4 separate regions of the Homo sapiens genome follow, and all the other regions are linked to region 3. The links come from fine-mapping of genetic effects on gene expression. A gene starts in region 3. Each other region holds a variant in brackets. All regions are shown on one strand. Distances are from middle to middle.

Region 1 (8,101 bases), 85 kb before region 3:
CAGGGAAGTCTAACAACCCTACCCTCAGGCACAAGCATGTATCTTGTTGGGCTCCTCGAGTAGAGGAAGGATGAGGGACATGTCCCAGGGAAGGCCCCCAGGTCAGCCTCACTGGCTTCTCCAGGAGGTCAAGGGCTGGCAGAGGCCCTGCCCATCCCTCTGCCTTTACACTGACCTCCCCGCTCTGTCTTCTGCTGCTGTCACCCATGCCTTGGGCAGACCACACAGCCAGCCTGGCTACCCTGAGTCCATTCCCCTGACTTCACCTGAACAGCGGACAGCAGGAGTTGAACCTCTGAGCCTTGGATTCAGGACCGTCTGGGTTCAACTTCTGTCTCCCCCAGCTGTAGACAGGTGACCCTGGGGAGTTATTTATTCTCTCTAAACCTCAGTTTGTTTATCTGTAAAATGTGGGTAATGACACTTTACTATACAGACTTCTCGAGAGAATCAAATAAGACAAAAATATAATTGACAGAGCACCATGCTAGAGCAGAAAACTCTATAAACATCACTCTTATTTCTATTGTTGAAATTGTCCAGCAATGGTATCTGTGGAACATAAGGCTCAGAGAGGGGACATGAATTGCCCAGCACCATACAGCCAGTTGATGGCACAGCTGGAATCAGAATGTGAGTTTTTTTTCCCACTTAATAATAATAACAATAAAAATAACATTAATGGGGGCCATGTGCGGTGGCTCATGCCTGTAATCCCAGCACTTTGGGAGGCCAAGGTGGGTGGATCACCTGAGGTCAGGAGTTTGAGACCAGCCTGGCCAACATGGTGAAATCCCATCTCTACTAAAAATACAAAAATTAGCCCAGCATGATGGCGGGTGCCTGTAATCCCAGCTACTCGGGAGGCTGAGTCTGGAGAACTGCTTGAGTCTGAGAGGCAGAGGTTGCAGTGAGCCAAGATTGCGCCACTGCACTCCAGCCTGGGCGACAAAGCCAAACTCTGTCTCAAAAACAAAACAAAACAAATCATGCTGGGCGTGGTGGCTCACGCTTGTAATCCCAGCACTCTGGGAAACTGAGGTGGGTGGAGCATGAGGTCAGGAGATGGAGACCATCCTGGCTAACATGGTGAAACTCCATCTCTACTAAAAATACAAAAAATTAGCCGGGCATGGTGGCAGGCACCTGTAATTCCAGCTACTCGGGAGGCTGAGGCAGGAGAATAGCTTGAACCTGGAAGGCAGAGGTTGCAGTGAGCCAAGATTGTGCCACTGCACTCTAGCCTGGGTGACAAAGTGAGACTGTGTCTCAAAAAAAAAAAAAAAAAAAAAAAACACCACACACACACAAACAAAAACAAAACAACCGAAACAAAATAACATTAATGCCAGCTAACACTTACCAAGGGACATTCTACGTGTTTTAAGTGTGTTTTTTCATTTAATCCTTACGACTCTCTGAGATAGGTATTAGTCTTATTATAGCCATTTCATATATGAGAAAACTGAGGCACACTAAATAATTTTCCCAAAGCCACAGAGCCTCAGTGGTAAGCCCAGGATTTGAACCCAGGGAGTTCTGGCCCCAGAGTCCAGCAAGTGCTTGTTGCACATGCAACCAATTCACTAGTACATTTCCCCTGAAGACGCAAAGATGACTCTGGCAGTGTTCAGGCTCCAGACAGTGGTCTCAGACCAACCTAGCAGAGCTCATCAAAGCACACTGTGATGAGGAGGTGTCTTATCATCTCCTGCCTTCCTCATGAAAAAAAAAAAAAATGGAGTTCGCTGGGCCGTTCCAGGGCCCAGTGTCAGGCAGGACACTGGTTTCCTGAGCCTGGCATTGTGGCCCAGCACCCCAGGGCCATGCCTGGCTCTGCAGTTTCGTTTGGTGCCTACATGGAAGCTGGCCCAGGCCATGGCTCCTGTGAAAGCTGCAGGCCCGGGCATTCCCCGCAGGCAGCTGGAGAGCTGGCTGTCCAAGACAAAGGCAGCCTCTAAAGGTCAGAAGCTGCTCTGGGGCCTGGGATCTTTGCTTCCTGCTCCCAGCACAGCCTGTCCTCAGCCTGCAGGCTCCTCCTCCCAGTGCTCTCAGCCAGAAGGAAGGAGCAGGCAGATGGCACAGCCCCAGCCCTGCCTACAGCCCCCAGACGCGGAGCCCGACCCTGCCCTCCTTCTGCCAGGGGAAGGAAGTCCACTTCTTAAGCCTGGCATCCAGGGATGCTGAGGGGCTGAGATTAGAGAATTTCGGGGGGGTGATGGAACTGCTCCGTGTCTTGATTGTGGCAGTGTTTGCGTGACTTTGTTTTTCAAAACTTGTAAAACTGTGCACTGAAAAGAGGCAAATCACACCTCAAAAAAACCTAAAAGTCATATTTATAAATATAAATAAGCATAAGACTTGAAAAAAAGGAGATGGGGAAACTCTCCAGGACGTTGTTCTGGGCGGATTTCTTGAAAAATACCTCACAAGCACAGGCAACCAAAGCAAAAATGGACAAATGGGATCCCATCAAGTTAAAAAGCTTCTGCACAGCAAAGGAAACAATCAGCAAGGCGAAGAGACAGCCCACAGAAGGGGAGAAAATATTTGCAAACTATACATCTGACAAGGGATTAATAATCGAATAGATAAGGAACTCAAACAACCCTATAGGAAAAATCCTAATAACCCAGTTTTAAAATGGGCAAAAGGCTGGGCACAGTGGCTCACGCCTGTAATCCTAGCACTTTGGGAGGCCAAGGCGGGCAGAACACAAGGGCAGGAGATAGAGGCCACCCTGGCCAACACGGTGAAACCCTGTCTCTCCTAAAAATACAAAAATTAGCTGGGCATGGTGGCGCACGCCTGTAATCCCAGCTACTTGGGAGGCTGAGGCAGGAGAGTCGCTTGAACCAGGGAGTTGGAGGTTGCAGTGAGCCGAGATCGTGCCACTGCACTCCAGCCTGGCGACAGAGGGAGACTCCGTCTCAAAAAAAAAAAAAAAAAAAAAGAATGAAATCCTGTCATTTGCAACAACATGGATGAAACTGGAGGTCATTATGTTAAGTGAAGCAAGCCGGGCACAGAAAGACGAACTTCACATGTTCTCACTTATTTGTGGGAGCTAAAAATTAAAACAATTGAACCATGGAGATAGAGAGTAGAATGATGGTTATACGCTGGGAAGGGTAGTTGGGGGGCAGGGGAAAGTAGGGATGGTTAATGGGTCCAAAAATATAGTAGAAAGAATGAATAAGGCCAGGCATGGTGGCTCACACCTATAATAGCAACACTTTGGGAGGCTGAGGCAGGAGGAATTTGTGAACCCAGGAGTTCAACACCAGCCTGGGAAACATAGTAAGACCCTGTCTCTGTAAAAAATAAACAAAATTAGCCGGACATGGTGGTGCACACCTATAGTCCCAGCTACTTGGGAGGCTGAAGTGGGAGGATTGCTTGGGCCCAGGAGGTCAAGGCTGCAGTGAGCCATGATCACAGCACTGTACTCCAGCCTACGTGACAGAACAAGACCCTGTCTCAGAAAAAAAGGAATGAATAAGATCTAGTATTTGATAGCACAGCAGGGTAATTATAGCCAATAATAATTTAATTGTACATTTCAAAATAACTAACAGTATAATTGGGTTGTTTGTAACACAAAGGATAAATGCTTGAGGTAATGGATATCTCATCTACCCAGTAAATATATACACCTACTATGTACCCATAAAAATTTTTTAATTTTTTTCAATAAATAATTTAAAAAGAAAGAGCGGCCAGATGGATGGCTCATGCCTGTAATCCCAGCACTTTGGGAAGCCGAGGCAGGAGGATCACTTGAGCCCAGAAGTTTGAGACCAGCCTGGGAAACATAGCAAGAACTTGTCCCTATAAAAATAAATATATTTTTAAATTAGCCAGGCATGACTTTGGGAGGCTGAGATGGATGGATCACTTGAGGTTGGGAGTTTGAGACCAGCCTGGCCAACACAGTGAAACCTCATCTCTACAAAAAATACAAAAATTAACCTGGCATGGTGGTGTGCGCCTGTAATCCTCAGCTACTTGGGAGGCTGAGGCAGAAGAATCACTTGAACCCGGGAGGTGGAGGTTGCAGTGAGCTGAGATCGCGCCACTGCACTCCAGCCTGGACATCAGAGCGAGACTCCATCTCAAAAACAAACAAACAAAAAAACTAGCCAGATGTGGTGGCACATGTCTGTAGGCCCAGCTACTGGAATCTGTAGTCCTAGGATCACTTGAGCCCAGGAGTTCAAGGTCGCAGTGAGCTACGATGGTCCCACTGCACTCTACCCTGGGCAACAGAGCAAGACCTTGTCTCAAATAAATAAATAAAAAT[A/C]AAAGGAGAAAGACCTAACACACTGAGGAGGCCGAGAGGAGCCCTGGCCACCTCGGCACTCATAGGCCCAGAAGGTCAAACACCAGCCCTGGGCTCCTGGCCACAGCCCTGCAGTGCTACTCAGGACCGCAGGGAGGACACTGAACCATAGGAATTTGAACACCTGAAGCCAGTGTTCAAAGAGGCAGCAAGACCAGGCCCCAGAATGCACGGATGCTGGCCCCAGCCACGGCCCCTGTGAAAGCTGCAGGCCCTGGCATTCACCCCAGGCAGCTGGGGAGCAGGCTTCCCAGGACAGCCTGTCCACTGTCGATTGCCTCATCCAACCCAGCCACGCATCCAAATACTCCTAGGACCCAGTCCCTTTGCCCTGCAACCAGACATCCCTCTCATCTGCTTGGGACTCTCCACCTCACTGAGCCTTTGTCATGTGTGAGGTCCCAGCTGGGTTTCTTTTCATCCCAGATAAGAGGAAAGTGGGGTCTAGAAAGGCTGAGTACCTGCCCACAGTCCCCCAGCTGATACAGAAATAAGACCGAGGCCAAGCTCCTGACCGCCATTATCCCATTAATCTTCACATCAACCTTGACGGAAACACTGTGAGTGGTCTTATTTTATAGATGAGAAAAATGACACACAGAGAGGGTAAGTTGCCCAAAGTCACACGGTAGTAAAAGGCAGAGTTGGGACTCAAACCCAGGAGACTGGCTCCAGGATACCACTCTCAGCCACTATCCTCTTATCCCCCTGAAGAGGGCAAGCTGCCACTACCTCATGCCACTGCCTAAAGAGTGTGCTTGGAGACTTTTACTGTCCTTGGTGGTCCACTGTTACCCCAGGCACCATTCTGCTAATAGTTGAGTTGGCAGAGTGGAGTAGTTGAGGCAGTCCGTGGAAGAGTGTGACTCTCCAGTGTAACCCCAGCTACAAGGGCCTCGCTTGGTTTTGCCACAGCTGAGTGAGTTTAGGAAGTTACTTCACAGCCCTGTGCCTCCAGGGGCCACACCTGTTTAAGGGATGCTGGCAGCAGCCCTACCTCTAATTAGTCATAGGTATCCAGGGCACATAACTGCACCTGGTACAGGGCAAACCTCCCCCGCAGAAGTGTTAACCAGTGTTGTCCTCACTGGCATCATCATTACTGTGTGAGGGTGGGAACAAAATACAAAACAATATGGTCTCCCTACTGCCAGAATCCAAAATAATGATCACTCAACTTCCAGGTCTCAGCAATAGCTTCCTGCCACACATGGGGCAGCTGCTCTTGTCTTGTCAACTTGATCCCAACCAAGGGACAGGGCCTCACAGCTAGACCCTGGGCCTTGCCTTCTGCAATGACCATCAAGCATCTTTCTTGGAGCCCCTTCTTTGTCCTCTGTCTGTCCCTCTATTTCCTCTGCTGTTGAAAGGGTTGGGGCAGGAGAGCACTGGAAGATTTCAGACACTGCAGGTAGGGAAGGGGAGATGGTGAGACCAGCACCGAGATCTGGTCCCAGGGTGGACTTCCCCAAAGACAGCCAGACTTGCTGTTCTACCACTTGGTGTGCTAAAATAGAGTCTGTCTTCTTCTTGACCTAGAGCACTATTACAAAAGGCTACCTTCACCGGAGCAGGACACTGTCCTATAGCATTTTGTTTAAAGCAATTATTTAATTGTTGTCTTCCAGATGGATGAGAAGAGGGCCTGTGTTTCTCTTATTCATGGCTGTGCCTTCAGGGCCTGGCACACAGCAAAAGTGAGGATAGATGAATGGATGGATGGATGAGTAAGTAAGTAGATGAATGGGTGGATGAATGGATGGGTGGATGAGCAGATGAATGGATGGATGGATGGCTGGATGGATGAGTGGATGAATGGGTAGATGGATGGATGAGTGAATGGATGGGTGGATGGGTGGATGGATAGATAACTGAGTGGGCAAATGGATAGATGGGTGGATGGGTGGATGGATGGATGAATGGATGAGTGGATGAATGGGTAGATGGATGGATGAGTGAATGGATAGGTGGATGGGTGGGTGGATAGATAACTGAGTGGGAAAATGGATAGATAGGTGGATGGGTGGATGGATGGATGGATGGATGGTGGGTGGATGGGTGGGTAGATGGATGGATGGATGGATGGATAGTGGGTGGATGGGTGGGTAGATAGATGGATGAGTGGATGGGTGGATGGATGAATCATGGGTGGATGGGTGGGTAGATCGATGGATGGATGGTGGGTGGATGGATGGATGGATGGATGGTGGGTCGATGGGTGGGTAGATGGATGGATGGTGGGTGGATGGATGGATGGATGGATGGATAGGGTAAATGATGCCCTGGAAAGGCTGGGTCTGGGGCCTCAGGGGGACCACTTGCCTTCTCTCCACCTGCTGCTCAGAACTGCAGACTTGTGACATCACCTCTACAAATCCTCTGTTGGAGGCCTTGGTTCTTATGATCCGTGGGCTAGTCCCTGAGCCCCTCAAGCAGGGCCAGAGTGGCAAACTAAAAAACCAGATCTGACAAAGGATAAAGATAGAAGGAAGGAGAAACTGGGGGTAGGGGTTGGTGGTGGGGGCAGGACAGCCCAGAACAAAGGGCTGGGAAGGCAGAGAAAGTAGTAGGTGGAGGAGAAGGGAAGGAGGGCAGGAGAGGGAGGCAAAACAGAAGCTGAAGGCAGACAGGGGGACTTGATCAAAGGAGAGGCAAATAGGGCAATCACCCGCTCCCTGTGTCCCTCTCAGGACTTTAATGAGCCTGCGCGTGGGTAAGAGCTCCACTTGGCTGACTTTCAAAGCCCTTCCTCTCCATTAGCACATCTCAGTCTCACAACATCTTTGTGGGTCGGTTTTATTATTATCCTCCCACCAGCATGGCCCCGAGGAAGGAAGACGTCAGAAGCAGCTGGCCTGGGCTCAGATTCCAGGCCTCACTCCTGGCTGGGGGACCCTGGCAGTTGTGTGGCCCCTGAGTCTCATCTTCCTTGCCTGTGAAATGGGGGGTGACAATGATGCCGTCTGGCAGGAATGTCACGAGAAGCAAACAAGAGCATGTGAGAGGGTCTGGTACCCAGGCAGGGCTGCCCATCCTCTGTCCTCCCTTCTTCCTCACTGAGCTTGGGTGCAGGCAGATGTGTGTGTGCCTGCACATCCGAACTGCCAGGAGGCTTCGGCGTGGCCCAGTGCCTGGGCCTGCCCCCACAGACTCTGGTTCCATTGATGTGGAGTAGGGCCTTGATATCAGGACTTTGTAAAACTCCCCAGGAGATTCTCGTGTGCAGCCAGAATTGGGAGGCTCTGGTCTAAGTATGTACACGTGGGTAAGACAGGAACTCTACCAGGAGACCCAAAGAACTAGTCCCATGGACGGTCTCTGGGGAGAGCAGCCAGTGGCCAGGGCCCGAGGCGGGCAGTGTGGGAAGGAGGAAGATGTTTCTCTGGATACCCTTGGGCCTTGTGAATTGAATTTTGTTCCATCTGCACGTATGACCTATCCAAAGAGTAAATTTGAATGTTTATAATCAGAAGCAAATGGGGCCGGGTACAGTGGCTCATGCTTGTAATCCCAGTACTTTGGGAGGCCAAGGCGGGTGGATCACTTGAGGTCAAGAGTTCGAGACCAGCCTGGCCAACATGGCAAAACCCCATCTCTAGTAAAAAATACAAAAATTAGCCGAGTGTGGTGGCACATGCCTGTAGTCCCCAGTACTCGGGAGGCTGAGGCAGGAGAATCACTTGAATCCAGGAGGTGGAGGCTGCAGTGAGCCGAGATCTCACCACTGCACTCCAGCCTGGGTGATACAGCGAGACTCCA
Region 2 (8,101 bases), 58 kb after region 3:
GGGCACCAGCTCCGTCAGCATCTCCGACATCACCCTCACGTTCCCACTCACCATCTCCAGCTCACTGCGCAGCTTCCCAATCTGAAACACACAGTTGATCGTGGTGAGAGAAGCCAGGGTTCTGGGGCCCATGTTACTCACAGCGACAGAACCCAGTACCACCAACCCTGGGTGCAGCACCAGGGAGCCGACCTCCCAGCAGCCTCTCTAGGCAGCCTCCCTCCTGGCTCCCAAAGTGACAGCTCTGCACTAGAGGCCTGCCCCACCCCTTCTACAGACCCCTCACAGAGGCGCTACCAACCGTTACCATCTCCACACCGGAATGAGCCACCACGTGTGGCTGGAAGACTCCAGCATCTCCTGGGTCTAACACAGCAGCTAACAAGGCCCTGGAGGGTGGCTCCCCACAAGGCGGGGAGGGACGCTGCAGGCCCTCTCTCTCTCTCCCACTAGAGGACTGGGATTCTGCCCTCTCTCTCTCCTCCTAGAGGACTGGGATTCCGCCCTCTCTCCTAGAAGACTGGGATCCCCCCCTCTCTCTCCTCCTAGAGGACTGGGATCCCACCCTCTCTCCTCCTAGAGGACTGGGATCCCGCCGTCTCTCTCCTCCTAGAGGACTGGGATCCCGCCCTCTCTCCTCCTAGAGGACTGGGATTCCGTCCTCTCTCTCTCCTCCTAGAGGACTGGGATTCCACCCTCTCTCTCCTCCTAGTGGACTGGGCTTCTGCCCTCTTTCTCCTCCTAGTGGACTGGGATTTTGTCCTGTTTCTGGTCTATTTTGGTGTCCCAGGCTCATCTAAGGATAGTCCTTGCCCTGTACCCCACCTTGAATATGAAACTCAGATTTAGCACTTGTTCCAAGGGATGTGGGCAGGTTTTCAATGGTCAAAGGGTTCCAAGGAGTTGGGCTTGGGGAAACATTTTCAATAAAGCTGCAGTCTCCTCAAAGAGGTTAGCTTGTGAAAGGCCATTGGTATAAGGATCTTATGCTGTGGGACCTTGTAGGGTGTTTAATGCCCTCATGCACACTGGGAATGCCTGGGAAAAGATCAGTCTGAAAGCTTCTAAGATTTATTTGACTGAAGAACCTTTTTATGTTTTGAGAAATGCTGGTACATTCTAAATCATGTGGCTGAGTTATAGTTGATTTCAGAGTGTCACTATATACATTCATGATTGTGACAGCAGCTACCATTTATAGACTACCTAATAAGTGCCAAGCATTGAACATATATTGCTAACTTAATTTTTTACCATGGTAGACATCAATATCCCTGCTTTTATAGATGAAGAAATGGAGTGTAGAGACTAGTAGTATATCCACTATGGTTCACTGACACCTTCCAAAACCTGCAAAATGTTTGATCTATTTGGCTTACTTAATGAACACTCTTGGTATGAGTGAGTGGAAAAACTACTGATCACAAACCCCATGTATCCAAATCAGATGGGACTTAATTACAGAGGAGTCTGGGAGTAACATCACTGCACACCTGATGTCTTAACATGTCCCAAGAGACAAAAGGGGACTCTCGAATTAAACAAAGATTAGTTTTGTTTAGCAAGCACCTTCTTGCATTGGAAGTAATTAGCGTCTTAATCCACACAGATGCTAGACTTCAGAAAATTGGTTAAAATCATAACTGAGTTAGACAATCACAAGGTGGTTTTACAATTTTTTACACACCTTTAACCCACTCAGAAAAAAAAAGTGCAGCTCGCTGTCAGCACTCATTTAATTTTACATAAACATGCTCTTTGAGGCTGAAGTAAACCTGACTGATTTTCAACATGAAAATAAAACATAAAAACTGTTCTTGGAGTTATTTCTAAACAGAACTTGTCTCCAATCCTAACGTAACAGAAATGTATATGAGGTTACATTAGGATTAGAGACAAGAGTATTCTTGGGGCAAACGGGCAGTGCGTTAATAATTTTGTCCAGTTAGCAAAATTTTCTAGTAATATCTGTAACTCTGAGGGGTGATTTCATAACTTGCTATGAGAAAACAAATCATGGAAGTTTCTCTTCAAATAGGTTAGGGTGAGAATGAGTTCAAATGATACAAAAAGTGGGCAGTGGGGACGCTTATTGGGAAAGTTAAGCTTCACTTTTCTTTCCATCACACATCCGTGTCTAACTCACCAGCACACTCAGCAGCTCCACCTTTACGCTCCGCGGATGTGATGGGCCTGATGTGTGTACAACACCTTTAACGTGGGTGTCTCCACAGTGTGCAGGCCTCTGCCCCCACCCCAGCAGCCAAAAGTCTAGAATGACAAGCCCCCAGCTCTACGAGCTGGTCATGGCTGTAGAAGTCACTCAGCAGATACAGCAGCCATGGCACTCCACAAGCAGCTCATGGCCCAGTGGGCCATGAGGAGGAAGGAAGTGACATGCCCAGGGTGCCACCTGCTCTGAGGTGGGTAATCCTTCAAAGCTAGTCAGAGGGCTGGGAAAACCTGTCCCCTAGAATCTCATACTAAGCCTCAAACCTTCTTGGCTGGGTGTGGTGGCTCATGCCTGTAATCCCAGCACTTTAGGAGGCCAAGACGAGTAGATCACTTGAGCTCAGGAGTTCGAGACTAGCCTGGCCAACATGATGAAACTCCATCTCTACTAAAAATACAAAAAATTAGCTGGGCATGGTGGCTCATGCCTGTAGTCCCAGCTACTCAGGAGGCTGAGGCAGGAGAATTGCTTGAACCTGGGAGAGAGAGGTTGCAGTGAGCCTAGATGGTGCCACTGCACTCCAGCCTGGGTGACAGAGCAAGACTGTTTCAGAACAAACAAAAAAGCTTCAGACCTTCTTGAGACTTCATGGGAAGCAGCATGGTACAATGTACATATGTTTTTTATTTTTTGCACAGATGTTTGAAAACTTTTCAGGCAGAACCTCTCTTCAAATGAAGCCTTTTTTTTTTTTTTTTTTTTTTTTGAAACAGGTCTCTCTATGTTGCCCAGCCTGGTCTCAAACTCCTGGGCTCAAGCCATCCTCCTGCCTGAACCTTTGAGAAGCTAAGATCACAGACGCACGTGACCATGCCCAGCTCAAATGAAAGCTGTGAGTGTGTAAGAAACCACACAGGTGGAGCTGGCCTGAAGGGGCTGCGTACAGGACACCTCTCCATGGTGCTGTTGGAGGGCCCCGCAGAAAACACAGGTTGGAAAATGGCCAAGGTACAGGGCAGTGCCTGCCAGGAGTCAGACAGACGTGAGCTTGGATCCCAACTGTCTCTGATGACTGTGTGCTCTGGGCAAGTGAATGGACCTCTCTGAGTCTCATCGCTCAAACAGGAAGAACCACACATACCCTGTGGGCTGCTGTGAGGAAGAAGTGGAGGCTCCGTGGATGGTAAATTCTGACAGGGGGCCCTCCCTGACGTGTGTGGCCCACCTGCCTGGACCTGACGGTTCTGACCCCAGGCTCGTTTACCTGTTCCGGGGTTGGTGCTATGGGCGTGTCACCGGAGAGTATGGGCGGGGCGGGCAGAGGGGCAGCATGCTGGCCAGAGTCCTCTTGCTGGCTGGAGTCAGTGCCCACAGAATCCTGTCCTGATTGTGTCTCTGAGTTGAACACGGTCTAGTGGGAGGAAAACAGGATCAGTGAGGGCTCCTGGGAACATCAAGAGCCCAGGAAGTCAGGGGCCAGCCTGGTGATGTCTCTGGGGATGAGTCCTGCCTCCCTTCCCTTGGTTCCCGGTACGGCAGTTCTCTCACCCTCTGGGGTGTGTGGATGGGTGACAGCATGTCCAGGTCAGTCATGGGGAACTCCAGGCCTTTCCTCCGCAGGTCCTCATAGATGGTGACCACACCTGTCAGATCGGGCGAGCTGCGGAACGCGTCAGCCCAGGACTGAGAGGGGACAAGGGGACACAGCCGGTAACCACAGCTCACCTGTGAGCCTGCCCACCTGGCACTCAGACAGAGAACAGACATTCTTTCCCTGCTTTTTTTTTTTTTTTAACTACATCTGCCCTGCCCACTCCACAGCAAAGCACGCAGTTGGCAAGCCTCCCTCCCCACAGAACATCCCACCAGC[C/T]GACAACCGAGACGCCCCGAAATGAGAAGCGGAGCCTGGGACAAACACGATGGCCTCGACTCTCCACTGGGCAGGAAGCTCCTGCACTGACAGCTCTTCCTGGCCGTGCCCTGCCCTGTCCTGGCACTCACCTGGATGAGGTTGAGCACTTTGTCATGCACGATGGTGGGTGGGTTGTTCTTGGGCAGGATGGTCCTCACCAGCACACTCTCCACGAAGTCCTGGCTGGCCACCAGCACGTGGAAGCGGTGCCCGCAGTTCTTGACACAGGTTTCTAAGACCTGGAGGGCCGAGAGGTGCCGTCGAGCACCTTGGTCAGAGGAGAGGAGGTGCTCAGAACCCCCACCCTCGTGGCTCCTCCTGTGTCCCAGAGAGGAGGCCCGGGAGAGGAGATGGGACTTCCTGGAGTGAGACCCTTGAATGTGGAGGACTGGGACAATGCCAGGACTGGGGGACTTGTTTACTGGAGGGCACGGCCTAGGGTGGGCAGAGGTATGGTGTGTGGGCTGGACTTCCTTCCCTGACTGGCGTCAGTGCACGCAGAATCCCAATGCTGTCTCTGAGCTAAACATGGTCTAGAGAGAAGGGGCTCTCCAAGAGGAAATCAAGGAGCATCTGAGATGTCAATCGACTGGTGAGCCTGTGGCCCAGGGAAAAGGCACTGAACTTCCCTCCCCACTCTCCACTTCCCACTGCAGGAATTGCCTTTGCTTTTTGCTTAAGCCAATTCACCTGGATATAAATGCTGCTTGTGGAGGAGGGTGGGACAGCATTTATATCTTCCCCAGCCAAACCCATGCTGACGGCTAGGAGGCCCACGTGTGTCTGGCCGCCCTGAGATCTGGGCTGGTTCAGTGGTGTGGGCAAGACTGTTCTCAGCCACTGGTATTTATTTTACATTCATTTGCCAGAGCACCAAAGTGCCGAGCAGCACCCAACTCAGTCAGCCGGCCTCCCTGCCCCCGCGGAGGCCTGGGTTTACTGAGCTTCAATGTCACCCACAGGTCCTTTGGCCCAGGCTCTCCCTGCCAGTGGTTCTGGAGTGATGTAAGCGTCTGTTCCCATGCTGGGGGATTGGGGAGAACCTTTCCAAATGGCCTCTTGCCATTCTGCATCCGCCTGCAGTGTAGACAGGACAGTGCGTTGCCTACAGACCTTTCCAGCTCTCAAATGAGGAGCTCAGAGGAGGCTGGGAGTCCTGCTGGGTCTGAGGGGAGGTGACTTTCAGTGGACCGTAGTCCTGCCACAGGACAGACAGATGGGGCACTCACTGTGAGAGCCAGCATCACCTCGTGGAAGTTCTTATTCCCCACGATTCTCTTCTTTACTGCTCGGAGGGCATCTTTGGGACTAAGGAGGACAAGAAAAAGGGTGGGCTTAGGAATAGAGCCCCCTTACCTAACACCAGAGACCCTGGAGAGTTGGAACAGTTCTTATTGGCCCATCCTCCCTGTGCCCCACCTGTTTTGTGTATCCAGCCAGGTTCTGATCACATCAGAATCTTCCTAGCCCATTGCTTAGCAGGGACTCACAACCTGTGGCCCCTGGACCTCCAGCAGCAGAGTCACTTTGAGAAAAGATGAGAGCGTTTTGTTAAAAGTGCAGAACCTGGCCGGGCGCGGTGGCTCATGCCTGTAATCCCAGGACTTTGGGAGGCTGAGGCAGGTGGATCACTTGAGGCCAGGAGTTCAAGACCAGCCTGGCCAACATGGTGAAACCCTGTCTCTACTAAAAATACAAAAATTTGCCGGGCGTGGTGGTATGACCCTGTAATCCCAGCTACTTGGGAGGTTGAGGCGGGAGAATCGCTTGAACCCAGGAGGCAGAGGTTGCAGTGAGCCGAGATTACGCCACTGTACTCCAGCCTGGGCAACAGAGTGAGAGCCGAGATTGCGCCACTGTACTCCAGCCTGGGCGACAGAGTGAGACCCTGTCTCAAAAAAACAAAGGACATTCAAAAAAAAAAAGCAGAACCCTAGGTCCCCACCCTAGACCACCTGAACCAAATTCTCAGGGAGTGGGGCCCCTGAATCTGAATGCTTCTCATGCTCCCCAAGGGTTTCTTATGCATGCTCAAGTTTAAGAACAAATAACCTGGAGGCATAATGTTTTCATTACAAAAATAGAGATGGGGTCTTGCTATGTTGCCCAGGCTGGTCTCAAACTCCTGGGCTCAAATGATTCTCCCACCTCGGCCTCCCAATATGTTGTGATTACAGGCATGAGTCCCTGAGCCCAGCTAGCATAGTGTTCTGATGCCCCGTCCTGGCCAGCTGCTCTATCTGTCCATTTACCCTTCCATTCAAGTTTTTTTTTTTTTTCCTTCTGAGACAGAGTCTCACTCTGTCGCCCAGGCTGGAGTGCAGTGGTGCAATCACAGCTCGCTGTAGCCCGGAACTCCTGGGCTCAAGTGATCCTCCTGCCTCAGCCTCCCAAAACGCTGAGACTACCAGTGTGAGCCACCATGTCTGGCCCATTCAACTCTTATTAAGCACCCAATATGTATGTAGCACCATGCTAGGTGCTGGGGACACAGTGGCAAACAAGACCATATGGCCCTGCCTCCTCCCCACCTTGCGGGGAGATCCAAAGAAGAGCAAGGAATAAGCAGGTCCTGGAAAAAGAGCAGAGGTGAGGATGGGGGTGGTCAGAAAAGACCTCCGAGGGGGTGGTCTTGTAGTTGGGCCTTGAAAGATGGGAAGGACCACCTGGGGGGAGTGGGGGCAGAGCAGTTTGGGTCAAGGTCAGAGCCTGGACCAAGGTCTTGGGTGCAGAGGAGCTTGATGCCTTGGAGGAACTAAGAGGAGGCCACACTGAGTGTGGGGGAGGTCGGGGAGGGCTGAAGAAGCCTAGGGGTCACGGTGTTGGGAGGCCCCTGGAAGCTGGGGTGCCAGCCTGCTCTCCCTGTCCCCTCTGTGATTCCCACCATCCTCCACCCTCGGCCCTATACAGGTATACTCAGTGCTGCCCTGACTGCTCTTGTCTAAAAGCCTTTGTGCAGGGCCCCCACTTGCACCCTGAAGGCTCCTGACCTCCACATCCATGAGGTGAAGCCTCAGCTAAAATCCACCCCTTCCACAACACTTTCCCAGGTCCTCCAGTCTCCCTGGCCTGTTCTGCCATGCCACATTGAACTGGGGGCCCACCCTGGGTAGAGAAGAAGCTTGCTAGAGGGCAGGGATGGTGTTCTCTTTGGACAGCTTCCCTTCCTAGAGCCCATCACACTACTGAAGCACAAGTAACATTTCTCAGCCTGGCCAGTGGCCACTGGGACCCATCCGGCTGTCTGCCTGGCTGTCAGTGCTGACCCCATCCAGGACTAAGGCAGGAGAGCCTGGAACCCTGGCACTGGTTCTCAGCAGGAGTGAAGGCAGAGGCAAGGCTTCCTAGGGACAGAGCCTGCCTGGGGGCTAGAGCTATGGAGGCGGTCAGGCCTGCGGTGGAAGGGACACGGTGGGGAAAGGGATGGTGGCCCACCAAGGGGGGTCCTGGCCCAGAAGCCTGAGAGCAGTTTCCAACCCTTGCCTCCCTGGGCAGCCCCTCGCCCGTCCCTGGCTCCTGGTCTTGGCCTGGCCACTGACCCACGGGCTACTTCAGCGCTTTATAGTGACTTCTTTCCACCTCTTCTAGGGTGGCCTAGACACAAGGGAATCAGAATCATTCCCTGGCATGTTCCGCCATGCGCCACTGACCTGGGGGCCCACCCTGGGAGAGAAGAAGCCTCCTAGAGCGCAGGGACAGCGTCCTTGTTGGACGCCTTCTCTCCCTAGAGGGAAGCACTGGGAATCGGAAGTTCTGGCCTTGCCACTGCTGTGGGCCCATGATGTCCGGTACTCTGCTGGGAGCACAAAGTGTATGACAAGGAGGCCACAACCCAGTGGGGGAGACACTTTAGCAACGAGGCTAAGTTTAGGTGCCATGCTTGGTGAGGTCAAGGGTCATGCCTGCCTTTGATCACTGCTGGGTCCCTAGTGCCTCCTGTGTTGCCTGGAACACACAAAGTGCTCAAATAAATAGCAATGCACCTGACCGACGCCGAGCCTGTTCCTCCCATGTTT
Region 3 (8,101 bases):
GCACTAACTCCCGTTACACATTAATACGCCCGTTTAAATTTGAAGGAGAACAAAGTTAAGACATTTAGGTTGGAGTTTCTGAGTTATTTCTGAGCCACAAACATTCAAAGCAGCTCTATTCCTTGAGGGGACAGAAAGCCAGGCAGTCTGGTACAAAAGAGCCTGGGTTTTTGAGTGTGACGGACCTGGTTCTTACCCAACTCTGCCAGTCCTTAACTGTGTGACCATGGGTGAGCCACTTGCTTTCTCTGGTCCCAGCTTCCTATCCTATCCTAGAGCAGATGATCTGAGGTCCGTGTGACTGTGCTAGCCAACTGTGCTAGTCAGTTCCCTCACCTGCCACATACTAGATGGGGCTGGTGTGAGGATTAAGTGAGAGGATCTGGGCCAGCACAGAGGGCAGCCTGGCACTTAGCGCTCACATGAGAAGGGCTGTGATAAGTGCCACGTCCACCAGCTTAATGTAAGTGAGCACTGGATTCTCTCATGGATCTTGGCGCCTCCTTAGAACCCTGTGACTTAGAGGCAAAATCCAAAGTCTAAGCTGGCTGGGGATGGGATATTCCAGCATTCACCTCCCTGCACCCACTGTCTCCAGTCACACTGCAGCAACTGGGTGTACCTCATCTTTTTAAGGGAGAGGGGAGGAGGATGAGGAAGACCCATTACAGGCCCAAGGACCCCACCCAGCCTGGAACCACAGATTAAATCTCTCCTCATTAAAGCATGTCTCGGCCGGGTGGTGGCTCACACCTCTAATCCCAGCACTTTGGGAGACCAAGACGGGTGGATCATCTGAGGTCAGGAGTTCGAGACCAGCCTGGCCAACATGGTAAAACCCTGTCTCTACTAAAAAAATACAAAAATTGGCCAGGTGTGGTGGTGGGCACCTGTAGTCCCAGCTACTTGGGAGGCTGAGGCAGGAGAATCGCTTGAACTTAGGATGCGGAGGTTTCAGGGCACCGAGATCTTGCCATTGCACTCCAGCCCGGACAACAGAGTGAGACTCTGTCTCAGATAAAATAAAATAAATAAAGCATGTCTCATGTTGGAAGTAGGGGGTGGCAGAGGGTGCAGATTGCAAAAGGGACTGGGATGAAGGTGGTGGGATATAGCTCCCTACTCCCCACCCCCACACCCTCTGTTCAACCTGAACAAGCTCTTCCCCACGCTGATGTTTTAACACCCAGTATCTTCCCGGTTCTTCATCAAGTGCTTTCCTTCTATTTGCATGAATTTCACAACAGTGCTGGGAAACAGCAAAATCAGTACCTGGCATATAGTGGGTGCTTAAGAAAACCCTGCTGTTGAAATACTCTTTTACAGATGGGGAAAACGTGGCTTAGGGAGATTAGATGAGGCACCCTCAGTCTCACTGTTAGAAAAGGGTTCTGTTAAGACTCCAACCTATATTATTCCTTATCTTCAGAGGCAAATTCGAGTTAGATCAGGAGTACAAGCTCTGAAATACAAGGAGTACAAGGCTGAAATCGGTCTTGGTTGATTTCAGCCTTTTCCACTTACTGGCTGTGTGACCTTCTGTTAGTCACTGAACCTCTCTGAGCCTTCCAGTCCTCATCTTTCTCGTCAGGGTTGAAGCACAGATTAGAAACCACGTGTACAAAATGCCCAACATGGAACCGGTGCTCAGTCAACGGCACTGCTGCCCCAGCCCCTCCACAACATTACAGAGCAGGCTGAACTTGCTGTGTGACCTTGGGTAACTCACCTTCCCTCTCTGAGCCTCAGTGTCATCATTTTTAAGATGATTCTATTGGACATGCCCATCTGGTCCCTCAGCATCCCCACTTAAACCACTGGTCTGAGCCTTGGGTCCACCCACACCTGCCACACCCTCCACCAGGGCTAGTCCCACCAAGCCACATACCTTGAAGCCGTCTCGGGTCACCTGGCCCTTCTGAAAGTTCCTCATGAACTCAGCATTCTCTGCCTGGGTGTGCACCTCCTTGGTGGCCTCCTTCAGGGCCTCTGACAAATCCTGGGGCATGCTGAGGAGGAAATGGGAAAGGTGAACACAAAGCTGGCTGGGGGTGGGGTCCTTCCCAACTGCTGAGCCTCCCACCTGTGGGCAGGCCTTCAAGAGACTCCCATCCTCATTCAGGCCACGTTCTCAATCGCTTTAAGATGCAGCCTTGTGGCTGGGCACGGTGGCTCACGCCTGTAATCCCAGCGCTTTGGGAGGCCAAGGCAGGTGGATCACCTGAGGTCAGGAGTTCGAGACCAGCCTGGCAAACATGGTGAAACCCCGTCTCTACTAAAAATACAAAAATTAGCCGGGCATGGTGGCAGGTGCCTGTAATCCCAGCAATTATGCCTGTAATTGCTTGAATCCCGGAGGCAGAGGTTGCAGTGAGCTGAGATCACACCACTGCACTCCAGACTTGGTGACAGAGAGACTCCATCTCAAAAAAAGAAAAAAAAAGAAAAAAAGGGCCAGGCATGGTGGCTCACGCCTGTAATCCTAGCACTTTGGGAGGCTGAGGCGGGCAGATCACCTGAGGCCAGGAGTTTGAGCCCAGCCTGGCCAACATGGTGAAACCCTATCTCTACTAAAAATACAAAAAAAAAAAAAAAAATAGCCGGGCATGGTAGTGGGCGCCTGTAATCCCAACTACTTGGGAGGCTGAGGCAGGAGAATCGCTTGAACCCAGGAGGCAGAGGTTGCAGTGAGCCGAGATCGCGCCACTGCACTCCAGCCTGGGCAACAGAGCAACACTCCATCTCAAAAAAAGAAAAGCAAAAAAGCAAAAAAACAAAAAAACAAAAAACAAAAAACAAATTCAGGCTGGGCATGGTGGCTCTCGCAGCTTTGTAAACACTCTTCAGTCATTAAAACACTAAATAATACAGTCCCCCAAACCAAGGGGGAAATCCTGGTACAGGTAGTTCGCAGTGGAGAGGAGGAGGAGGTACAGCATAACCCAGGAAGAAGCAGCAGCCCCATGAACCGGCATCTCCAAGTTTGTAATTGCTTTGATTGGCTTTTAGACCCAATATTTAATTCAGTTATTTTGTTAAAGTTCCAGATGCAAATCTCATGACCCCCTATCATGTTATGCTCATCATGAAGGCGTCAGGGTTAAAAAGCCTGAGAAAGTCTGCTTTAGTCAAAGAAAAAGTCTTTCTGGGAGTATTTCTGTCATGGGTCCGTATCCCTGCCTCCCCACAGAATTGTCATTTTTCCCTTTTCTCCTGCCCTGCTTCCCTGTTCTACAACACAGCTGGTCAAAGTCTCAGGAGAAATGGCACATGTCTGTAAGTCCCAGCTACTCTGGAGGCTGAGGTGGGAGGATGCTTAAGCCCAGGAGTTAAAAAAAAAAATACTAACAAATTATTGAAAGAAGGGAATGAGTGAGACCTGGAGGTGGGCAGACCAAGGTTCAAGGCCCAGTTCTGACACCAGCTAACTGAGCACTCTTGGGCATGTCGCCTCCCTGAACTGGGCTATCTGTGAGACATGGAACACCGCAGCCAGGGTGATGTCTGGCTCAGGTCCTCCGTAGCTAGTGAGGGACAGATGCCACCAAGAGAACCAAGCATGCTCCCCCAGGCTGGCAGAGCCCCAGAGATCTAGATTCAGCAGAGAGCAACTCCAAACACACCTCGAAAGTAGGATTAAAAAAAAAATTGGCTACCTCAAAGACTGGATACTCTAGGGACACTCCCATCTTGGTCACCAACCGCATACCAGGGTGCCAGGCATGTAAATTACCGTTCCTCCCTCCAACTACCCTACGGGCACAGGCAGGATCAGAACCCCGCACCTCCTGACTCCAGAGCCCAAGTTTCTGGCTCCTGGGCTCTGTCGCTGTGTGGCAGTGTCCCGGGGTGGGGCTAGGACGCAAGCAGGGTTGGGAGAGAAAGGCGCCCGTCCCGCGTCCCGCGCCCCGCGCTTGCCTGTCGGGTTGCGGACGCTCCATCCGGCCGGTGCTGGGCTCGTTCGTGCTGGCTCCGCGGGCGGCGGCTGCGCTGAGGACGCTCGAGAGGAGGCAGGCGTTGACTGCCGGAGCCGCGGCCGGTCACATTTATGCTCGGCGGGTCACGTGGGCCAGGCGGAACAGCTGATGCCCACTTTCTGGCCGGGCGTTGCAACACCCGCAGGGGCCCGCGCCCAGCCCGCCCCGGGCCAGTGTGGGGTGGAGAGGAGCAGTCATATGACCCTTGGGAAACAAAGTCTGGCCATAGGACTTTTAGAGAAAACACACACACACACACACACACACACACATACACACACACACACACACACACACACACACAAAACCTTTAAGGAAATCTGAGAAGCTGCAGGCTCTGGGTGTGATTTTGCTCCTTCCAGAGCCCCCCCTTCTGCTCCCTGTCCCCTTGGGACTTGATGCACCCCAGGCGTCCCAGAAGGTTCCAGAAAGCTGGGAGGCAGCGCTGCTCAGAGCAATAGCCTGGTGGGCAACATCAGGAACTTAGCAACCCCAGGCTCTGCTGTCTCCAGCTCCCTAAAATGTCACCTGCTGGAATCCTCTGCTGACTGCTTGCCTCCTCACACCCTCTTTAAATGTACATTTAGGATCTGTTTTTTGAGTTCCTGTCAAAAAACAGAGACTCTAGTATTTTCATGGTTCATCCCTACAACTGACCTGTGAGGGTAGATCGCTTCTATTTTACAGATGGGGAAACCGAGGCTCAGAGGGGTGCAGTGGTGTCACACATAAAGCAGGATGCCAGTGTCCAAACCCAGGGAGGAGACTAAGTCCCCGCCTGCCTCCTCCACACTCTGGCAGCACCTGGTATCCGCCTGGACTGGGACACCTGTCATACAAACTGCTTCCCTGCTGGAATGCGTGGGACACTCTTCCAGGCACATTCAGGTCTGACTTATACTCAGTGCCTGCTCAGGGCCCAGAGCAGAGCTGGCCCTTGCTGATCGCCTATTGAATCAATTCTGCATGAGGTGGACTCCTTAGAACTCGGGGGAAATAGGGTCACTGGGTGAACCCAGAGGACAAAACGAATGGACCAGATGATTCATACAGTCCTTTCCCAATACTGTGATTCTCATTCTAAGATTTTTTTTTTAAGATGGCTTTCAGGCCTGGCATGGTAGCTCACACCTGTAGTCCCAGTACTTTGGGAGGTTGAGGTGGGAAGAGCGCTTTGAGCCCAGTCGAGGTGGGAAGATTGCTTTGAGTTCGAGACTGGCCTGGGCAACATAGGGAGACCCTGTCTCTACAAAATATAAAATAAATTAGCTGGGCATGGTGGCACATGCCTGTGGTCCCAGCTACTTGGGAGGCTGAGGCTGGAGGTTCACTTGAGCCTGGGATGTAGAGGCTGGAGTGAGCTGTGACCACGCTACTGTATTCTAACCTGGGCAACAGAACAAGACGCTGTCCCTCAAAAAAAAAAAAAAACAAAAAAAAAAAAAAAAAACTTCCTGGAATTCAGCCTAGGGCCACTACAGCCCAGAGGCACTTCTGAGATTGTATTGGAAAGGATCATCCTCCCAAGGGTGAGCTAAGGGGCCTTGAAAAAAATTCCCCTTCTTCCTCTGAAGGTTCCCCGAAAACCAACCGACAAAAGTCAGGTTAAGAGGAGAAAAGACATACAAAAATGTATTGTAATGGGGTAATCACGGAAGAATGGTGACCCTGTAACCCAGTGGAGTACAGAGGCTACCCAGCCTTTTTTATAGGGGAGAAGGGAGATAGGGAATGCAGACAATTCTTTTGAAAGACAGTAAATCATTAGCAAGAAGGAATGGCCCTGGAGGTGAAAGGCCGACTTTAAGGGAAGGTGGAGGTGGAGCCGCACAGGGACAAAGGTTGTCCTAGGCAGATAAAGTCCCCCAGGTAATCTCTTGGCACTGTCCTCAGAAGAACAGGTAAATCTGTCTGGGTCTGGTGATGACTCCCAGTCTCTTTCTCTCTCCAGTGGTTGATCTTTCCTGGATATTTGATGAGATTACTAGAAAAAGGGCTTAACACTGGCCGGGCGCGGTGGCTCACACCTGTAATCCCAGCACTTTGGGAGGCTGAGGCAGGAGAATCGCTTGAACCCGGGAGGAGGAGGAGGTTGCAGTGAGCCAAGATAGTGCCACTGCACTCCAGCCTGGGTGACAAGAGCGAGACTCTGTCTCAAAGGAAAAAAAGACTTAACACAATTGCATTTCTTTTGTAAAGAAGTGTTCTTGGTCAGATAAGGAAATTCCAGAGAGCGTCTCTCCCTGTGCTTGTCGGGGGAACAAGACAAGCTTACAGGGACCTTGACTCTGAGGCAGCTCCTAAGGCCTCTCATCATGTCAAAGCACCAGTTGTCCTGGTATCACTTTCTGAGCCCCAACAGTGGCATGTAAAGCACAAAGGTGGAGACCTTGCCTACTACTTTGCTTTGTAAATTCCCAGTTCCTGGAATAGTGCCTGGTAGGTCACAGTTAATACTGAATGCATGCCTGAATGAATAGATGCTTCAAGGTCTCTTTCTGGGAAAAAATAATAATATTGTTAGGCTGTAATATTGCTGGGCTGATAGAATGGGCTGGAACCAAGCCACAATTCCAAACTGTCATTCTAACCAGCCTTTATTGAGAATTTACTATGTGCAGAGACTTCACGCGCGTGATTGCAGCCCATCCTGACAACAGCCTTGCAAGCTATTTTCATCTCTATTTTGCCCACATGAGCACTGAGGGACAAAGAGGATAAGTCATTTTCCCAAGTCATACAGTTAATGATGGAAGAGCCAGGATTCAAACTACAGCACTTTGAAGCCAGTCCCCACAGTCCTGACCACCACACTCCAACCCTTCTCACAGAGGGTCCAGGAGTTTAGGGGAGATGAGTTTGCGTGTATAGATCCAGAGTCTGTCCATTCAGCGACCCTAGAGGGTAAAACTCATGAGATCTGAACCCTTTTTATTTAACACAGGGAAGCAGGGACCCCAAGAGCAGGAGGGACTTGGCCAGGCTATGCCCCCCATTGGAAAGAGAACCTCCAGTGACCCAGGGTTCCTGGCTGCCGGTCTGGGCTTGCTTTCTTTTCTAACTGTTCTCTGGGAGCCCCAGACTTCGTTAGAACAGCCCCCCACACAGTGGGTTGCTGGGGTGCAAGAGGCCAGGCCAGAGTTGTTCTGGTCCTCTAGGCTGTCCCAGGGCTGAATTTGTGGCCCTTTCGCATGCTGATTCAGCCTCCTGACTTCCCCTTCTTTTTAGTCAAGCAACAGGATGATCCAAATGCTATTCTCTCTCCTCCTGCTGGGCCAAATAAAAGCCCCTTAAAGGTGTCCACATTCTAATCACCAGAACCTGTGAATAGGTTACCTTTTTGCTACCTTACATAGCAAAAGGATCTTGCAGAAGTGATTAAGTCAAGGATGTTGAGATGGGGAATTATCTTGGATTATCCTCTTGGGCCTTATAAGAGGGAGGCTGGATGGTTGCACATACAGAAGGTGACAAAGAAAGCAGAGGACAGAGAGAGAGACTGGGAGATGCCATGCTGCTAGCTTTGAAGATGGAGGATGAGGCTGGGCACGGTGGCTCATACCTATAATCCCAGCACTTTGGGAGGCTGAGGTGGGCTGATCACCTGAGGTCAGGAGTTCAAGACCAGCCTGACCAACATGGTGAAACCCCCATCTCTACTAAAAATACAATAATTATCCAGGCAAAAAAAGTAGAGAACTTTCTCCTGCTGGAGGCAGAAGAGATGAGGCAGATGCAGAAGTCAGAGAGATGTGAAGCATAAGAAGGCCTCGGTGGATTGCAACATTAAATCAGGGGCAGATTGAGGTGGACTTCACAGGGTGGGAGCTGGGGGACCCAGCAGGGGAAAGGCACAGACTTAGAAAAGACAAACAAGAGGCTTCTGCCGTTTTCTAGAAGTTTCACTTCCTCCTGCCTACCATTAAAGCTGCCCTTTCACCTCCCACCTAAAGAGAAGCTGAGGAGGCACTGGTGACTCAGCAAAATCTAGCAAAATCCGCCTTCCCTTTGTTTCCGCGAGTCCCCCCTCCCAAACATGACGCAGCAGAAATGCAGCTGCACGAGGGGATGAGGAAATCGCGACTCAGCATTCCCAAGGCGCCTTCAGGAAACAGAAGTGGTTT
Region 4 (8,101 bases), 28 kb after region 3:
GGAGAACTGCTTGAACCCGGGAAGTGGAGGTTGCAGTGAGCCGAGATCACACCACTGCACTCCAGCCTGGGTGACAGAGCAAGACTCCCTCTAAAAAAATAATAATAAATAAAATAAATAAATAAAAATAAAAATTAGCTGGGCGTGGTGGTATGTGCCTGTAGTCCTAGGTACTCAGGAGGCTGGGTGGGAGGACCGCTTGAGCAGGGGGTAGGGGAGAGGGGACGGGGGAAGCCGAGGTTGCAGTGAGCTGCAATCATGCCGCGGCATTCCAATCTGGGCAACAGAGCACGACCCCATTTCTTTAAAAAAAAAAATGAAATGTATTTGGCAGCATGTGAAGAAGTCACTGAGGGAAGGGCAGAGTCCTCCCCTAACTTCACGTCCAGTAAAAGCCCAAAGTCCTCCTGAAGGTTCCGGCAATCCCTGGTACTTGTGTTTTCACCACTTCCCCCACCCTGCTGTCCCAGCTTCTTCCTATTTCTGCTCTGAACTGTGCTGACTCAGACATGAAACTTGCTCCTTCCCCAGTTCCCCAAAACCCTACTCTTTTTTTATTTTTTTTGAGACGGAGTCTCACTCTGTCGCCCAGGCTGGGGTGCAATGGCGCCATCTCTGCTCACTGCAACTCCACCTCCCGGGTTTGGGCAATTCTCTTGTCTCAGCCTCCCAAGTAGCTGGGATTACATGCGCCCGCCTCCACGTCTGGCTAATTTTTTGTATTTTTAGTAGAGATGAGGTTTCACCATGTTGGCCAGGCTAGTCTCGAACTCCTGACCTCAGGTGATCCATCCGTCTCTGCCGCCCAAAGTGCTGGGATTACAGGGGTGAGTCACCATGCCTGGCCCAAAACCCTACTCTTGACAAATACTTATGAGCAGAGCATTTACTAAAGATCTCAGGGCCACAGAGAGGGGTGACATTAGACAGAACCTAGAGAACAATCTAATACAGCATCTGTTCTTCCGAATCTTTTTTGGCTACTCCTCTCCCTTCCCTCCCTCTACCCCAGTAGTTGACCTCTGATCCTCCCCCAACTCTTTGCCTGGGGCCCAGTAGCTCACCCTCTCCTGCCTTCTCTCTCTTCCCTTTCCCCGTTCTTGTCTCTGTGCTCTCAGGCCCTCTTCCAGATGGCCCGGTAGGATTCACCTCCCTCTTAAGAGCAGAGCAGTCCAGCTGTCTCCAGCTCCCTCCCCAAGCTTGCAGATCCAAAGTCCCTGTGCACAAACATGGACATGAGAGAGCTTCCTTTTCTCCAACCATTGTCTTCAACCATGCCCAGCCTCCACCAGGGTCCTTTGTGACATCTTGGGTGGTTTTGCTAACTTTCTTGTCATTTTCAAGTACAAAAAAGTCCAATCTTGGCGCAGTGGCTCACACATGTAATCCCAGCACTTTGGGAGGCCGAGGTGGGTGGATTGCTTGAGCTCAGGAGTTTCAGACCAGCCTGGCCAACATGATGAAACCCTATCTCTGCTACAAACACAAAAATTAGCCAGACATAGTGGCACACGCCTGTAATCCCAGCTACTTGGGTGGCTGAGGCAGGAGAATCACTTGAACCCAGGAGGCAGAGGCTGCAGTGAGCCGAAATAGCGCCACTACACTCCAGCGTGGGTGACAGAATGAGATCCCATCTCAAAAAAAAAAAAAAAAGTCCAGTCTTGAAGTTTAATCTCACATCGAATTTGATATCCCCTCCTCCCTCCCCTTAGCACTTCAGGAGGGTATGGCCAGCTCCTTCACTCTCCCTTCCTTGCCTCTGTCTCCTGGGTCCCTGTGTTGCAGAGTTGAGGTGAGGGGATGGGAGGGCAGAGCCATGTTTACGTGGGGACGGTGCAGAAGCCAGGGTGGCCGTCGATGGAGATGCCCAATGCGTGTGAAGGCCAAGGCTGGCAGGAGCCGTGGGGGAGCCCCTGGCCAGCAGTGAGCATGGCTATCTTCAGCTCCTGCCCTTTTGGGTTGGGGTTCTGCTCCAAACAGTGGGTGGGCCCAGAGGGGCTGGGCAAACAGAGGCTGTGCTGTTAGTTCCCTCAGATGAGGCTGCCCAGGCAACTGGAGCACTTTTGGATGGAACGAGATACTGCATTGGTGTATTAAAAGTCTGATTACTGCCGGGCGCAGTGCCTCGCACCTGTAATCCCAGCACTTTGGGAGGTCGAGGTGGGTGGATCACTTGAGGTCAGGAGCTCGAGACCAGCCTAGCCAACATGGTGAGACCCCATCTCTACTAAAAATACAAAAATTAGCCAGGCGTGGTGGCATGTGTCTGTAATCCCAGCTACTTGGGAGGCTGAGGCAGGAGAATCACTTGAACCCGGGAGGCGGAGGTTGCAGTAAGCCGATATTGCGCCACTGCACTCCAGCCTGGGGGACACAGCGGGACTCTGTCTCAAAAAAAAAAAAAAAAAAAAGTCTTGATTACTGATGCCCAAAAGGGAAAAATATTAACAACTCAATGCATTGTGGAATGTTTTGTGGCCAAAAATCAAAACAAACAAAACTCTTCTAAATCCATAGTCTTGGGGAGAGACCATGATAGAAGATTTCCTTGGGGAGAGAAGGTTTTAGAACCCACTGGCCTAGTTGGTCTCTGAGGCTGAAAGTTCTGTGGGAGCCCAGAGCACGGTGCAGGGTGCTGGGGAGGGCCTTCTGAAGACAGACTTCCCAGCTGTCCTCCATTCGCCCACCTCCTGCGGGGCAGGTGCTATGGAGGACCGGGATTCTAGTTTCAGTTCTTTTACAAATTTGCTGTGTGGCCTTGGGCAAGTCTCTGCACTGGTCTGGGCCTGAGAAGGGATCCTGAGGGAGGGCCCCATCTCAGCAGCCAGCCTTCTCCCTGCAGGGGTCCAGTGGCCTCTGCAGCCTAAGTGGCTTGCAGGGCTCAGGGCTACTCATACAGATAATGTACACAGTGACTTTTCTAGCCCCAAGGCAGACCTAGGCGCAGCCCCAGGCCCAGAATAGAGTGCACTTCATCCTGATCCCCCAGGGACCTTTTCTCCCCAGAAAAGAGGACTCAATGTTTCCACTTGCCGGCTGTGTGGCTTTGGATTAGCTAGTTGACTTTTCTGACCTCACCCCCTCCTTTGTAAAATGAAGATTCTTTTTTTTTTTTTTAATTTGTATATTTTTTGAGATGGAGTCTCACTCTTGTTGCCCAGGCTGGAGTACAGTGGCGCGATTTCGGCTCACTGCAGCCTCCGCCTCCCGGGTTCAAGCGATTCTTCTGCCTCAGCCTCCCTGGTAGCTGGGATTACAGACACCCACAACCACGCCTGGCTAATTTTTGCATTTTTAGTAGAGACAGGGTTTCGCCATGTTAGCCAGGCTGGTCTTGAACTCCTGACCTCGGGTGATCCACCCACCTCGGCCTCCCAAAGTGCTGCGATTACAGGCGTGAGCCACTGCGCCTGGCTGAAGATTCATTTTTAACAGAGCTTCCAAGGGCTCCAGTGAGGGCAGGGTCCTGTGGGGAGCATGGGCAGCACCCCCATTCCTCAGTTCACCCACTTGCTTTTCCCTTTCCTAGGGGTACCCCAGGGCAGGTGCAAGGATGTCCCCGGCTTGGGTTTCGCTTCCCTCCTGCCCCTAGGCGGTCAGCTTCCTGTGCGGGCATTCAGCAGGGTGTGTGGGTGGCCGCCTCCACCCATTGGTCCCACTGAAGCTTGGGCAGTTGTTTCCCTATCGCCGCTGGTCCTGGAGGGGAGATAAACCCGGGGTCCTGCTTCCCTCTCTTGTAGATATTTGAGTTTCTTTCCTCGTATTTCTTTCCTTTTTGGAAGGAGGATTATGGAATTTGGGGGTTGATAGGGCAGAAAAGCAGAGTGCAAAGGGGCCTTACGCTCTCTTAAATCAAGCCGATTAACAGATGGGGAAACTGAGGCCCAGAGAGAGGAGAAGGCTTGCTCCAAATCAAACAGGAAGTCAGTGTCTGTGCACCGCTGGAAGCTCGGTTGGCTGACTCCTGGGCCGTGCTTGGACCTGACACAGGGGGCCCCAGGAGTCCCCACCCTCCACCCTGCACTGACTTCCCTGTGCTTGTGCGTGGGTGGGGGCTGCTTCCTCCCCGGGCAGGCTGGGCTGGCACACAGAGCCTCCTGGGCCCCTGCACCAGGTAGGGAGGCAGTACACTGGTCAGGGCAGGCCCCTCCCCTCCCTGGGCCTCCACTTCCCTGTCTGCACATTTCTCACCCGCCTCAAGAGGTCCAAGTGCCCTGCCAACCTGACTCTGACCCACTGGGGATTTGGGGCCCTGGTCAGCTTGGGTTCCTTCCCTCTGCTGGCCAGCCTGGTCCACGGTGCACAGAGGGTGCAGGGCCAGCCTGCAGCAGGGGCAGGAAGACGTCACGGGAGTCCTGAGTCAGAGGCAAGGGGTGAGGATTCGGCCCGGCGAAGCTGCTTCCTCCAGTCTCGCCCTGTACCAGGGTGGGTGGAAGTGAAACCTGCCAGCTTACCCGCTTGGGTCTGCTCTGAAAAAACAAGCGGACATGGGGACCAGGAGAGCAGCCCCAGCCCAGCTCCCAGCACCTGTATCTCCCTCCACTCTGCCGGCACCCCTGCTCGCTCCTGGTCCCATGGCTAATCCTTGGATCTAAGGCTAGGCTGCCCTAGGATGAATCTAGCCACCCTCAAACTCCCACTAGGGCAGGGGGCAGGGGGCAGGGAGTGGAGGCGGGTGTTTCATGTGGCAGCCCCTCTGAAGACACTGTGGCCACCTGCGAAAGAGCAGTGTGTCTGGGAGAATGGACCCAGGGCCTAGAGGGCAGCAGAGGGCAATACAGGGCTGCTTCGTCCCTTTGAATTCATACGTTGAATCTCTAATCCCTAGTATATCAGAATGCGATTGTATTTGGAGGTAGGACCTTTAAAGAAGTGCCAGGCACTGTGGCTCACACCTGTAATCCCAGCACTTTGGGAGGCC[G/A]AGGCGGGTGAATCACACGAGGTTGGGAGTTCGAGACCAGCCTGGCCAACATGGAGAAAACCCGTCTCTACTAAAAATACAAAATTAGCCAGGTGTGATGGCGCATGCCTGTAATCTCAGCTACTCAGGAGGCTGAGGCAGGATAATTGCTTGAACTGGGAGGCGGAGGTTGCAGTAAGCCGAGATCGCGCCATTGCACTCCAGCCTGGGCAACAAGAGTGAAACTCTGTCTCAAAAAAAAAAAAAAAAAAAGTGATTAAGGTACAATAGGTACAATAGATCATTAGGTGGACTCTAATCCTTGATGAATGCTGTCCTTATAAAAATGGGACTTTTGAACATAGAGAGATGCAGAGGGGATATGATGTGAGGCCCCAGGGAGAAGATGACCATATACAGCCACGGAGGGGCCGGAAGGAACCAACTGAACAGATGGAGTCCACGTCCTTGATGTTGAACTTCAGCCTCTAGAACTGTGAGAAAGAAGATTTCTGTGTCTAGGGGCCTGTCTGTGGGGCAGGGTGGTGGCGGTCCACGCGGAGAGGGTGGGAGGCACTGGCAGGACGGGGCAGTGGTGGCAACAGAGATTGGTTTCTGCGGGGATGGGGGGAGAGAAGGAATGAAGGACGGCGGGAAGCAGGTTTCTCACTGCTGGAGAAGGGAATTAGACATAGGGGAAGGGCGGAAAAGAGAAGGAATCTGTGGTAGAGCTGGAGTTACTGGGCGAGCTCATGATTTGTCTACACGTGGAGACAGAAACGGCAATGCACACGGATCTGAGCGTGTCGGCTGAGAAGGCGCGGGAGCAGGGGGCCCCAGCAACGGCACACCGGGGCTCTGTAAAGAGAGGGAGGGGACCGGGCTCACTTTTGCCCACCCAAAGCTCCCGTAGCTGAGCTCCCAGCTTGTCTCACCAAATCCTCCCCACAACCCTGTGAATCGGGACGTTTAAGAAGATCTGAGGCTTCCAGAGATGAAATCCCTTGTGTAGTCCCACAGCAGAGCCCGGCGGTGAAGCCAGACCCTCGGACTCCAGCTCCCAGCCCCATCACCATTGTTACTCAGCCCCACCAGTCAGAGGGCGTGTGCGCGTGTGTGTGTGCACGCGCGCGCCTGTGAGCTCGCGCGGGGCAGGAGCGGGCAGGAGCCGGCAGCACCCGCCCCTTTCTCCCGGTGTCTGTACCCGGGAGGGGCTGATTTGGCCGCGGTGGACTCCACCCTAGTGCCCCGGCAAGCCCTGTACATGCAGTGCTACTGCCATCTCGTGGTCGCCTTGAAACACTGACCCTGAGCAGGGGCCGTAGACCGTGCTCAGGACTCAGAACTGGGCCTACCTCCAGCCACCTTGGAGCGGGCAAAGGCTTCCTAAAGCGCCTACCGAGAGCCCGCAGAGCCCAATCCAGGAACGCCAGGGGGACCCTGCCGTGTTGCCAGGATCAAGACAGCCCTGACCCTCTTAGGGTTAGCAGCCCAGACCAGGAGGAAAGACAGACACAGTCCTTTGGTTCTCTCCCAGTGGGGAGTAGGGACAGACGTTATTCTGGAGCTGGGAAGGCAATACCAGAGGCAGAGCAGGGGTCCCTAGAATTACTGAGGAGTCTGAGGGGCAGGGCTCTGAGCCAGGTGTCTGGAGCAGAGGCCATTCTGGAAGGGAGCAGGGAACCATCCGTGACAATAACAACATGTACAGAGCATTGTCTACATGGCAGGTGCTGAGTTACTTGTTGGCTCAGTCAACCCTAACAACCCTATGAGGCAACGAGTGTTATCTGCCCATTTTACCAGTGAGAAAACAGAAGCACAGAAAGGTTAAGTAATTTGCCTAAGGTCACACAGCCCAGAAGTGGCCGGTCTGGGAGGTGGGTACTGACACTAGGGCAGGAGGTGGAGGGGTCGGTGTCCAGGCCCAGGGTGGGATCGTGGTGGCCCAGGGGAGCCAGGAGGGAGAGGGCTTGGTGGAGGCTCTGCAAAAGGCTTCCTCAAAGGCAGGCCTGGGGCTGCCCCCCAGGCGCCCTTTCCCCTGCCCACCAGCCCCTCCCAGCTCCACTCAACCCCTCCCCTCCATGCCCCCGGCCCAGCGCCTTCCGATGTAGCTGGGCCCAGCGGGAGCGGCGGCACCTCGTTAATCCTGCCCTGTGGTGCCAGGTGGAGGCCCTGCTCCTACCCAAGGCTCCCACCAGACAGCTGGCCCTCATTTTCTTGGGGCCAAGACTTCCTGCAGCTGTAAAGTGATCCCGCCCAGGCCTGCAGCCTCAGACAGAGCCTGCTGCCAGGGAACCCAGCCTGACTGCACTGATGAATTCCCGCCAGCGCCCCCCCCCCCAGCCCCCATGCAGCCCCAGCAGCCTTCTCTCTGAAGGAGGCCTTCAGGCAGCCTGGAACTGTTCCAGCCAGCCAAGCCGAGACCTCTGCAGGGGCCACCTCCTGCCTGGCATTCAAGGCCCTTCATGGCCCAGCCCACCCCATCTTACCTCAGCAGCCTTAGGCCGTCCTCACAGAGAGCCTCCTGGCCCTGGGCGTCCCGTCCCATCTTCTTCTTTTCACAGCGTGAAACAATGATTGAGTTTATGTCTGTCTTTCTCGTCCCTTTCCCTCCCACGTGACCCCACAGGGCTGGCACCTGGCCGCTTCACTTCTGTCTGGCGGGCACCTAGCGCTATGCTGTGTGCAGCTGGCTCCCAGGGGATGCACCCACAGGGAGGAATGAACAACCTGGCAGTTTTCACCCTTAGCACCTGAGGCCCTCCCAGCCCTGGGGGCCTTCTGTGGAAGTTTCCTTGGGTTTCCCAGCTAACACAGGGGAGAGGAGGCCTTGGCTTTGATCCTTGTAAAATCACAACTCCCCTCTAAGAGGTCCCCAGTTAAGTAGGGAGAGAATGAGGGAAGCAGGCAGTGGGGTGTGGGTGGGGCAGGCAGGTGAGGCAGCAGTGAGGAAGGTTGGGGGTCCCAGTCTTCCATTACTTAGTGTATGACCAGGCAAGTCCCTTCCTCCCTCAGCCTCAGTTTCCCCATTTGTAACTGGTGGCCAACACCATTGACCCCCTGGGGCTGTTGTGAGGTACTGAAAGGGCTGGGCCAGGGTAGGGCACCTGGCAGGAGCTCACAGATGCCCTGGATGTGGCAGAGGGAGCTTGGCCTGGACCATGAGCATCCTGATGGCGGCAGGGCCTCCCCCTC

Which allele goes with the higher level. Alleles are on the strand shown, and positions count from the first base shown. SD is a standard deviation of normalised expression in the study named. Not every link is listed here.
For the expression in unexposed skin of the gene that starts at base 4,019 in region 3, A is the high allele of the variant in region 4 and G is the other (moderate effect, 0.43 SD a copy in GTEx).

Evidence for each region. PIP is the estimated chance that this variant, and not a neighbour inherited with it, causes the effect.
Region 1: its variant is fine-mapped to the expression of HMOX1 in whole blood (INTERVAL, PIP above 0.99).
Region 2: its variant is fine-mapped to the expression of HMOX1 in whole blood (INTERVAL, PIP above 0.99).
Region 4: its variant is fine-mapped to the expression of HMOX1 in unexposed skin (GTEx, PIP above 0.99). The same link has a PIP of 0.9 or more in sun-exposed skin.

Annotation. Positions count from the first base shown.
Region 1 is chr22:35,461,820-35,469,920 of GRCh38, reverse strand. No RefSeq gene overlaps it. Among named protein-coding and RNA genes, the nearest start is that of MCM5, 66 kb to the right of the region's middle. The variant A/C (reference allele first, on the strand shown) is at 4,304.
Region 2 is chr22:35,319,251-35,327,351 of GRCh38, reverse strand. It overlaps TOM1 (target of myb1 membrane trafficking protein), which reads right to left. Exons shown (of 15, transcript NM_005488.3): 3 at 5,315-5,393; 4 at 4,175-4,324; 5 at 3,722-3,856; 6 at 3,438-3,584; 7 at 1-81. Among named protein-coding and RNA genes, the nearest start is that of MIR3909, 12 kb to the left of the region's middle. RefSeq lists enhancers at 3,223-4,422, 7,756-8,101. The variant C/T (reference allele first, on the strand shown) is at 4,044.
Region 3 is chr22:35,377,014-35,385,114 of GRCh38, reverse strand. It overlaps HMOX1 (heme oxygenase 1), which reads right to left and starts at 4,019. Exons shown (of 5, transcript NM_002133.3): 1 at 3,919-4,019; 2 at 1,889-2,009. The coding sequence starts at 3,941. RefSeq lists silencers at 3,749-3,918, 4,219-4,298 and enhancers at 7,533-7,772, 7,734-8,101, 7,379-8,101.
Region 4 is chr22:35,348,998-35,357,098 of GRCh38, reverse strand. No RefSeq gene overlaps it. Among named protein-coding and RNA genes, the nearest start is that of MIR6069, 16 kb to the right of the region's middle. RefSeq lists enhancers at 3,922-3,981, 4,482-4,621, 3,925-4,800, 5,932-6,051, 5,618-6,126 and 2 more and a silencer at 6,152-6,271. The variant G/A (reference allele first, on the strand shown) is at 4,925.